Regions from separate parts of the Homo sapiens genome. Here region 2 is linked to region 1. The links come from fine-mapping of genetic effects on gene expression. A gene starts in region 1. The other region holds a variant in brackets. All regions are shown on one strand. Distances are between the middles of the regions.

Region 1 (4,243 bases):
ATATTAGCTTTTTTTTAACTGAAAATTATCTAAATGTAAGATGTCTAAAAATAGAGTGGAGGTGGATTGGACAGTTTGCAGATTATGAGTTGGAATAAAAACATCGCAGTTAAGCCAAAAACATGGCAACCAATATTTTCTGTTATAAAAATATTTGAGATGAATTTAGTTTTTATGAAAGCTGTCTGAAACTGAAATGAATAGCAGAAGCTTTCTGTTTATTCACAGTCCAGTAATAATAATACCTGCAGCACAAAGCATACGTCTTTTCTATATAAAGCCAACAAGCTTCTGCTCCTTTCTGAAGTCGTCTTTGCCAAGCAGGGTGTTGGGGGCGGGGGTGAGGATAGGGGTGAGGGGACATTTTACCCGGTTATGCTCTTACGTACTAACCTTCACCTTGACAAAGCTTGTCAACGAAAACAAAACCAGTCAGAGCCTTTTCAGGAAACTGATGTTAACTGTCCACTAGAGGCTGTAATGAGACCAACAATGTCACTTTAGACCAACCCGAGGTTTAAACCGTAACAATAATCGATTTTTAAATGGAAAAAAAAAAGTTGTAGAAATGAGTAAGAGTGAACACTAGTAGTTATACTTAAATAGCCACATATATGTGCATGGTATTTCAAAAATGTGAGAAAAAAATATTTCCGGGGCTCTGCACCTTCCTCGCTCGTATGTTTATTTTTATTTATGAAGCACGTAGGCTCTTGCAGGCCAGAGTTGTGTAAAAACTGACACTTTTTTTTTGGTCATCCTGTGCCCTGCCTCAGTTGGTGACTAACCGTTAGGTCATAAGTAAACTCAGCCAAAAGATCTCTCAAATACAGCTTACAGTCAAGATTGGTGGCTTTCAGAAAGAAACTTACGCGAAAGGATCATGTTTCCAGACACTTAGTTCTAAGCACCTGAAGAAGGTCAAATGTCGCCCGACACCTACCGGCCTTCCAGAATCATCTGCAACAAGAACGCCGCACTGAGCGCCCTTAGTCTGGAGGCGCCTCCTAGTCCTCCAGGTGCCACACCTGTTGGCAAGGTGCACCCATCCGAAGAAGATTCCTTCGCGTGGAGGTCACACCTGGCGGCGAGACAGGCGGAGGGGCGGGGTGGTGGGAGTCGGAGACCGCACTGAAACCCTGAGTCCAGATTTAAGTTCCTCGTCGATTCTCGAGAACTGCCATTTGATGCTCCGGTTGCTTTCTCTGTCTCCTACACTGGTTACCTCATTTCCGATTAAATTAATGATCCGAAATTAGCTGCGAGAGGAGTGCGCGGGTCTCCTTTCCAGGCTAGAGCGGAGTAGTTCCATATCAAAGCCGATTTCCGGACCTGCGTGCGAAGAGAGAAAGAGGGCAGGGTCGGGCGGTCGCCAGCGTTCGCCGGCAGGAAAGGTGAGGGTACCTGTGCAGTCGGGGGACCCCTTGAAACTTTCCGGAGTTGCACGCAGAGGCAATCCCCGCGGCCCCCAGGCCTGGGTTCCGGAACGCCGAAGCGACGCCGGTTTGTGGCTTAACGTGCAGCTGATGATCAGAGTGAGCCCTCTCAGATGCTGCTCCGAGCGCCTGGGACCAAGGACACGTCGGGATTAGAATGGGCCGACCTCCCCTCCCCGCTGGGGTGTTGCATCGGCTCCCAGCTGAAGCCTGACAGCCCTTGGGGGAGTCCCCCAGGTTGCCTGAGTAGCGCCCCGTTGTCGTTCAGTCCCCTCCAACTAGGTGCAGGGACCCAGGGAGGCGCGCGAGGACCGACCCGTCACCGCTCAAATTACCTCATCGCCCAGCTCCCCGCCCCCTTCCCAAACCTGGAAGGAACCTTGCCCTCCGGTCCGCGTCTCCCCTCCCCCGCACCCCATCCCGAGCCACTCTTTGGGAAAGGTGCCCGCCTCCCCGGGCGGCGCGCAGCGAAGGGTTAAGGGCGCGGGCCGGCCGCCGCGCGGTGCGCTCGCCGTGCTCTGTGCGGCTCGCCGGGCCGCCCGCCAGAGGGTGCCCCCCACCCCCATGAAGTCGGATCCTTGAGCTGCGGCGGCGGCAGCCAACTGCTCCATATTTGGCTTCTATTACACATTTACATACTGGAGCGAGCGAGCGAGCGAGCGCGAGAGAGCGCGAGGGAGGGAGGGAGGGCGGGCGGGCGGAGGGAGGAGGGAGGGGAGGGGAGCGGGAGGAGGGGGAGGAGGAGGAGGAGGAGGAGGAGGAGAGAGCAGAGTATACCGCAGACATCATTTCTACTACAGTGGCGGAGCCGTACAGGACCTGTTTCACTGCAGGGGGATCCAAAACAAGCCCCGTGGAGCAGCAGCCAGAGCAACAGCAGCCGCAAGACATTGTTTCTCTCCCTCTGCCCCCCCTTCCCCACGCAACCCCAGATCCATTTACACTTTACAGTAAGTGACTATTTTTTTTTCCTCCTCCGATTCTTTCCCCCCTCCCCCATTCCCTTCTCCCCTTATTTAGATTAAAATCCCTCCTCCCCCGATCTCCCGAGAGGGGCAAAAGCAACAACCAGCAAACAAACCCAAAACCCCAATCGGCTGCACGGAAAACAGCTGGAAGAGGAGCGAAGGAAATCGACGCGTCGTGTTCTGTGTGTGTGCGTGTGTGTGTGTGTGTGTGTGTATGTGTGTACATACAACCGTCCCCGGCTCCAGGCTCCCGGGCCGACACCCCCACTCTGGGCGCAGGGGCGGCCGGCGGGGGGGCTGTCAGGGGCTGGGTGGGCGCCCGCCGGGCTAGGGGGCGCGCCCGGGCGGGGGGCGCGGGCGGGGAGAGCGGCGGCGGCGCCCCGCTCCCCCGGCTGCTGGTCCGGTCGCAAGTGCGGAGAGCCATGTCCTCCTCCCTCCGGGTGGCGCAGGGGGGAGGCGGCGGCTGGGGTTGGGGGGTGGTCCCTTTCCCGGCCGCCCTCTTCCCATTCCTCCTCCCCGGAGAGGGCGGTGAGAGAGAGGGGGTCTCACGGAGGGCTGGACTTCTCCGCGGGTGGTCGCCCGGCCTCGGCGCCCTGGGGCGGGGGTCTCCCCTCGGAGGGCCGGCCTCGCCGGGTGTGCGGCTGCGGGCGGGGAAGGGACTGCTCCTGCAGCCGGGACGGGACTTTGCGCGCGGCCGGGTGCCGGGCGGGGGGCGCAGAGGGGTGGCCTCGGGGACCGCGCGGGGGTAGCGGGTGTGCGGGTGCCTGGAGCGCGGCTGGAGTGGCGGTGACGGCCCTGGCCGCCGCCGCCACCGCCGCCCTGTTGGTGCGGCCGCTTCCTGATCATGTGCAGCGGCAGCCGCCGCCCGGAGCCGGGAGCCCGCGAGCGCCCCAGTCCGGGCCGGCGCCCCCGCCAGCACCCGCGGCAGGAGACGAGGAGCCGCGGCAGGCGCTGCCCTGAGCCGGGAGTGAACGGCTGCGCGGCTGCTGGGAGGGTGAATGAAGCCAGGAGGAGGGGAAGGAGGAGGAGGCGGCGGCCGCCGCGGAGGAGGCGCTGCGGGGATTGGGATGCGCCCTGGAGCCCCACTGCTCGTTCACTCTGGGCCGGGCCGGAGACTCTGCCACTCCCGGGGGCGCCGCCGCCTCCTCCTACGTGGTTCCAGTGCTGCGCGCAGGCCGGTCCCGCAGGGGGCAGGGAAGGGGGCCGGACGGGCGGAGCGAGAGGTGAGGCGGTGTCGGAGCGCGGCGTGAGTGTGAGTGAGTGTGTGAGTGACTGTGTGTGTGTATTTGTGCGCGCGCGCGCCGGGCGGGGGGCGAGGGCCGTCGCGACGCGGAGGGGGCCCTTCCTTGGCTACTTGGCTGACTCTGCAGCGCCCCGACCCCTCTTCAGCCCCCCGCCTTCAGGCTGCCTTCTTAAACTCCGTGGCTTGTGCTTTCATTTTGTTTCAGACCACGTAGGGGGCTGACTGAAAGGGATGAAACAATTCAGGTTTTCTAGGGAGATTGAGCAAGAACCTTAGTGGGGGTGGAAGTAGGGTGGTGATCGAGACTCTGCCAGAAAACAAAACAAAACAAAAAAAAATCCGTTTCTAAGGACGGCGGGGATTCGGTTCGAGCCCGTGGCTGCTCTGTTTTGTTTTGCTTTCTTGGTATATAATCCTACAGATAAAAGGGTAATATAAATATTTGAGAAGAGGGAAATTGCTGAAGAGTAGTAAGGGCAAAAAAAAAAAAAAAAAAAAAAAAAAAACAGTCGGAAGAAGCTGGTTATATAATGCGCGATGTGGCTAACAAGAAAGGCAAGCTATTTTTATTTTGTTTACCGTATGCTGTGCAGTAG
Region 2 (4,515 bases), 410 kb after region 1:
AAAAAATAAGAGTGCATCAGATGTGGAGATAAAATGTCTCAATGTTGAAGGGATGCATTTATCTACTTAACACTCAGATGTTTTTCTGATGGAAGCCTCTGCTTATTTATATTTTAGCAAAGGCCAAACTAACCTGTTCTAAGAAATAATCTCATACTGAAAGAGAGACCTCACTTCCCATTTCCCAATCCAAAGTAAATGCTGTGAAAGACCAGGAATGTAGTACCGTCAGCACACATCTGGGACTGTTTGTAGCCTACGTTCTGAAATCAGGGGATGCTGACAGGCTCAAGCTGCGATACTGAAAGGAGGCCTGGTTTCCCTTCTGTTGGAATTACATTACAAGGAGAAATATTGATCCAGCATACTCAAGAATGGGCTGGGTGTGGTAGCTCATGCCTGTTATCCCAACACTTTGGGAGGCTGAGACAGGCAGATCTCTTGAGCCCAAGAGTTCAAGACAAGCCTGGACAACATGGTGAAACCCCGTCTCTACAAAAACTACAAAAATTAGCTGGGCGTGGTGGCATGCGCCTGTAGTCCCAGCAACTCAAGAGGCAGAGGTGGGTGGATGGCTTGAGCCTGGGAGGTCGAAGCTACAGTGAGCCAAGATTGGGCCACTGCACTCCAGCCTGTATGACAGAGTGAGACCTTGTTTCAAAAAAAAAAAAAAACCCTGAAATTAAAAAAACATTCACTGGGGGAAAAATTGGTTTCTTAGTAGAAGAATACCAGCAAAACTCAAAATGAAAATGGAAATGCTCTGCTGCCAATCAGGAAAAGACTGAAAATCTTGGCAGAATTCTGCTGGAATCCTCTGCCCATTTCCTTCATGTTCTCATAATTATAAAAGAAAAAGAAATGAACATTGATAAAGTTCCTGCTGAATAAGAGAAGTTTTTTCTACCTCACATTTGTTGAATGCATCTCATTTAGTCATCACCCTAACCCTGTAGGGTACGTGTTATTATCTCCATTTTCTTTATTTTTTGAGACAGGGTCTTGTTCTGTCTCCCAGGTTGGAGTGCAGTGCCGCGATCTCAGCTCAATGCAGCTTTGATCTCCCAGGCTAGGCTCAAGCAATCCTCCCACCTCAGCCTCCCAAGTTGCTGGGACTGCAAGCATGCACCACCACACCTGCCTAAATTTTTTTATTATTTTGTAGAGACAGGCCTCACTTTGTTACCCAGGCTGGTCTCGAATTCCTGGCCTCACATAGTCCTCCTGCCTCGGCCTCCTGAAGTGCTGGGATTACAGGTGTGAGCCACCACACCCAGCCAATTCCCATTTTAAAATGAGGAAACCAAGGCTTGGGTTCGGTGATTTGCTGTGACTGAAAATCCTTCCCTCCCCACAAATAGGGACACCACTATCAGATATCACATAGATCATTTCCCAGGAGCCAAGGGCAAAGGGCAGACCCGTCTTTGGCCAAAGCCAAATTCTTTCCTACACAGTAAATATGGGAAAAAGAGAGACTTCAAGCTTCACCCCAAGAGTTGAGACATTTTGAAGAAAGACTGACACAATTAGGGGAGTCGCTGGATATAGGAGTGAAGTGCGAGAGAGGTATCAAATATCAGGCTCTGGCCTATGCTTGGAGAAATGGTGCAAAACCGTTAGCAGAAATATGGAACCGGAGTGCATGCTGATTTGAGAGGGGTGGTAAGCATCCAAGTGGAAATTCCTCACAGACTCTTGAGCTGAGACTGAAGTTCAGGAAGAAGAACACACCTGGATTTTTTTTCTTATGCTAGGCATTATAGTTGCTTTTATTTCATCTCAACAATCTTTTGAAAACGTATTATCATCATTCACATATTCCAGATGAGGAAACTGAGGCTTACAGAGGTTAACTGCATCTTCCACGTCCACAGTGCTAGTATAGAAAATGAGCTTTGTTGTAAACAGGAGACTGCCTTACTTTTTTTGCATTTCCGCTTGTCCATTAAATATTTTATTGCCTGTTTAGATTACAGTCATTGGTGCCTACAGCAGCATTATTTATCTTTCATTGGGAATTAGGGCCTTAAATTAAATCGTTAGTCATATTTTATGTTTTTATAATGTTGTAGAGATTCTAGTTAGGGCATGGTATTCTAAAAAGGAAAAGCATTGATTTAATTTATAATGAATAATTGTATCTAAACAGTGTACTATGTGTTCTGCGTTCAAATAAGCCAGAAAGCTTCTATTTATACCAAAGGAATAAACAGCAAACAACAGACATACTTAAATTGAAAACATGAGCACATTTGAATTTTATTTTTGAATGTAGATGTAATTGACCATTTGTTCTGCAAACAAGGCTTTGGTCCAGTTTAGGGGGAAAAAAAAATCAGTGCACTAGTGTGGAGTATTTTCTAAAAGAAGACAATTTTAGAGACTTAGTAAACTTTCTGAACCGGTAAGACTTGAAATGCCTCATGAAGGGAAGTGAGGCAGGGAAACTTTTAATGAGAGATTATTCCATTCACCATCTTTGCTGGAGCTGACTGGTGTCTATGATGCAGGAAGTAACCTGAGAAAGAATTCTAGGGAGGAAAATGTGTTTTTTTTTTTTCTTTCTTTCTTTTTTGAGACACAGTCTCGCTCTGTCACCAGGCTGGAGT[G/A]CAGTGGCATGATCTCAGCTCACTGCAACCTCTGCCTCCCGGGTTCAAGTGATTCTTCTGCCTCAGCCTCCCGAGTAGCTGGAACTACAGGCACGTGCCACCATGCCCAGCTAATTTTTGTATTTTTAGTAGAAACAAGATGTCACCATGTTGGCCAGGATGGTCTCGATCTCTTCATCTCGTGATCCACCAGCCTCAGCCTCCCAAAGTGCTGGGATTACAGGCGTGAGCCACCATGCCCAGCCTGAAAATGTGATTTTTTTATGCAGATGAAAATAGGACCACAGTGAAGGAGGTAGAGAAGAGGGCCTTTCTTAGAAAATAATCGGAACAACCACAGCCAGTAATTGTAGGTCTTGAGTACGCCAGGCCCTCATCTAAATTCTTCTTATGTGTGAACTCACAGCAAGCCTGTGGGGTAGGAACTAGTATTATTCCCACTTTGGAGATGAGCAAACTGAGGCACAGAGAAATGAATTAGTTAGGCCTGGTTAGTACTTAGATCAGAGAAATTAATTAACTTGCATCAGATATACACAGCTGAGGAGTAAGGCCACCAGGATTCCAAATCAGGTGGCCTAGATCCCAGGCCTGTGCTGTTTGCTGCAGCAGTCATAGGAGGTAGTTTGAACTGGAAAGCAGTTCATCATGAGAGGTAGCATTTTTTGAGGCACTACTGCCTGCTTGCATGCTAGGCACTGAATTGTCCCATGCAATTCTCATAACAACTTCATGAAATAAGGCGTATTACTATCTTCATTTTTTTTTTTCTAAGGCAGAGTTTCACTCCTGTCGCCCAGGCTAGAGTGCAATGGTACAATCTTGGTTCGCTGCAACCTCCACCTCGCGGGTTCAAGTGATTCTTCTGCCTCAGCCTCCCTGGAATTACAGGCACTCACCACCAAGCCCGGCTAATTTTTTTTGTATTTTTAGTAGAGACGGGGCTTTGCCACATTGACCAGGCTGGTCTCGAACTCTGGATCTCACATGATCTGCCCCCCCTCGGCCTCTGAAAGTGCTGGGATTATATGTGTGAGCCACCGTGCCTCGCCATACTATCTTCATTTTCTTAAAGAGGAAATCAAAGCTTAGAAAGTTGAATGGGCCCGGTGCTGTGGCTCATATCTGTAATTCTAACACTATGGAAAGCCAAAATGGGAGGATCGCTTAAGCCCAGGAGTTTGAGACCAGCCTGCACAGCGTGATGAAACCCTATCTGAATAAAAAAGTTTAAAATGTAGCTAGATGTGGCGGCACAAGTCTGTAATCCCAGCTACTAAGGAAGCTGAGGATCACTTGAGCACAGGGAGGTCGAGGCTACAGTAAACTATGGTTGTGCTACTGTGTCCAGAATTAGGTGCGTTCTTGGTCTCACTGACTTCAAGAATTAAGCCGTGGACCCTTGCGGTGAGTGTTACAGTTCTTAAAGCGGCATGTCTGGAGTTGTTCATTCCTCCCTGTGGGTTCATGGTCTCACTGGCTTCAGGAATGAAGCTGCAGACCTTTCCGGTGAGTGTTATAGCTCATACAGGCAGTATAGATCCAAAGAGTGAACAGCAGCAGCAAGATTTATTGCAAAGACAAAAAGAACAAAGCTTCCACAGTGTGGAAAGGGATCGGAGAAGGTTACCACTGCTGGCTCGGGCAGCCTGCTTTTATTCTCTTATCTGGCCCTACCCATGTTCTGCTGATTGGTCCATTTTACAGAGAGCCCAGTGGTCTGTTTTGACAGGGTACTGATTGGTGCATTTACAATCCCTGAGCTAGACACAAAGGTTCTCCAGGGCCCCACTAGATTAGCTAAATAAAGAGTGTCGACACAAAGGTTCTCCAAGTCCCCACCAGAGTAGCTAGATACAGAGTGTGGATTGGTGCATTCACAAACCCTGAGCTAGACACAGGG

What was found. PIP is the estimated chance that this variant, and not a neighbour inherited with it, causes the effect. A credible set is the group of variants that fine-mapping cannot tell apart.
Region 2: its variant is the best candidate, but not a certain one, in a credible set for the expression of ATXN1 in whole blood (TOPMed, PIP 0.82).

The regions. Positions count from the first base shown.
Region 1 is chr6:16,759,441-16,763,683 of GRCh38, reverse strand. It overlaps ATXN1 (ataxin 1), which reads left to right and starts at 2,224. Exons shown (of 8, transcript NM_001128164.2): 1 at 2,224-2,386. ATXN1-AS1 (ATXN1 antisense RNA 1) reads right to left here and starts at 2,546. Exons shown (of 3, transcript NR_136240.1): 1 at 2,518-2,546; 2 at 1,405-1,565; 3 at 1-1,332. RefSeq lists an enhancer at 571-1,770 and silencers at 1,771-2,090, 1,908-2,123, 2,131-2,290, 2,767-2,896, 2,967-3,446 and 1 more.
Region 2 is chr6:16,347,565-16,352,079 of GRCh38, reverse strand. The region is part of intron 6 of ATXN1 (ataxin 1); the gene reads left to right. Among named protein-coding and RNA genes, the nearest start is that of GMPR, 110 kb to the right of the region's middle. The variant G/A (reference allele first, on the strand shown) is at 2,613.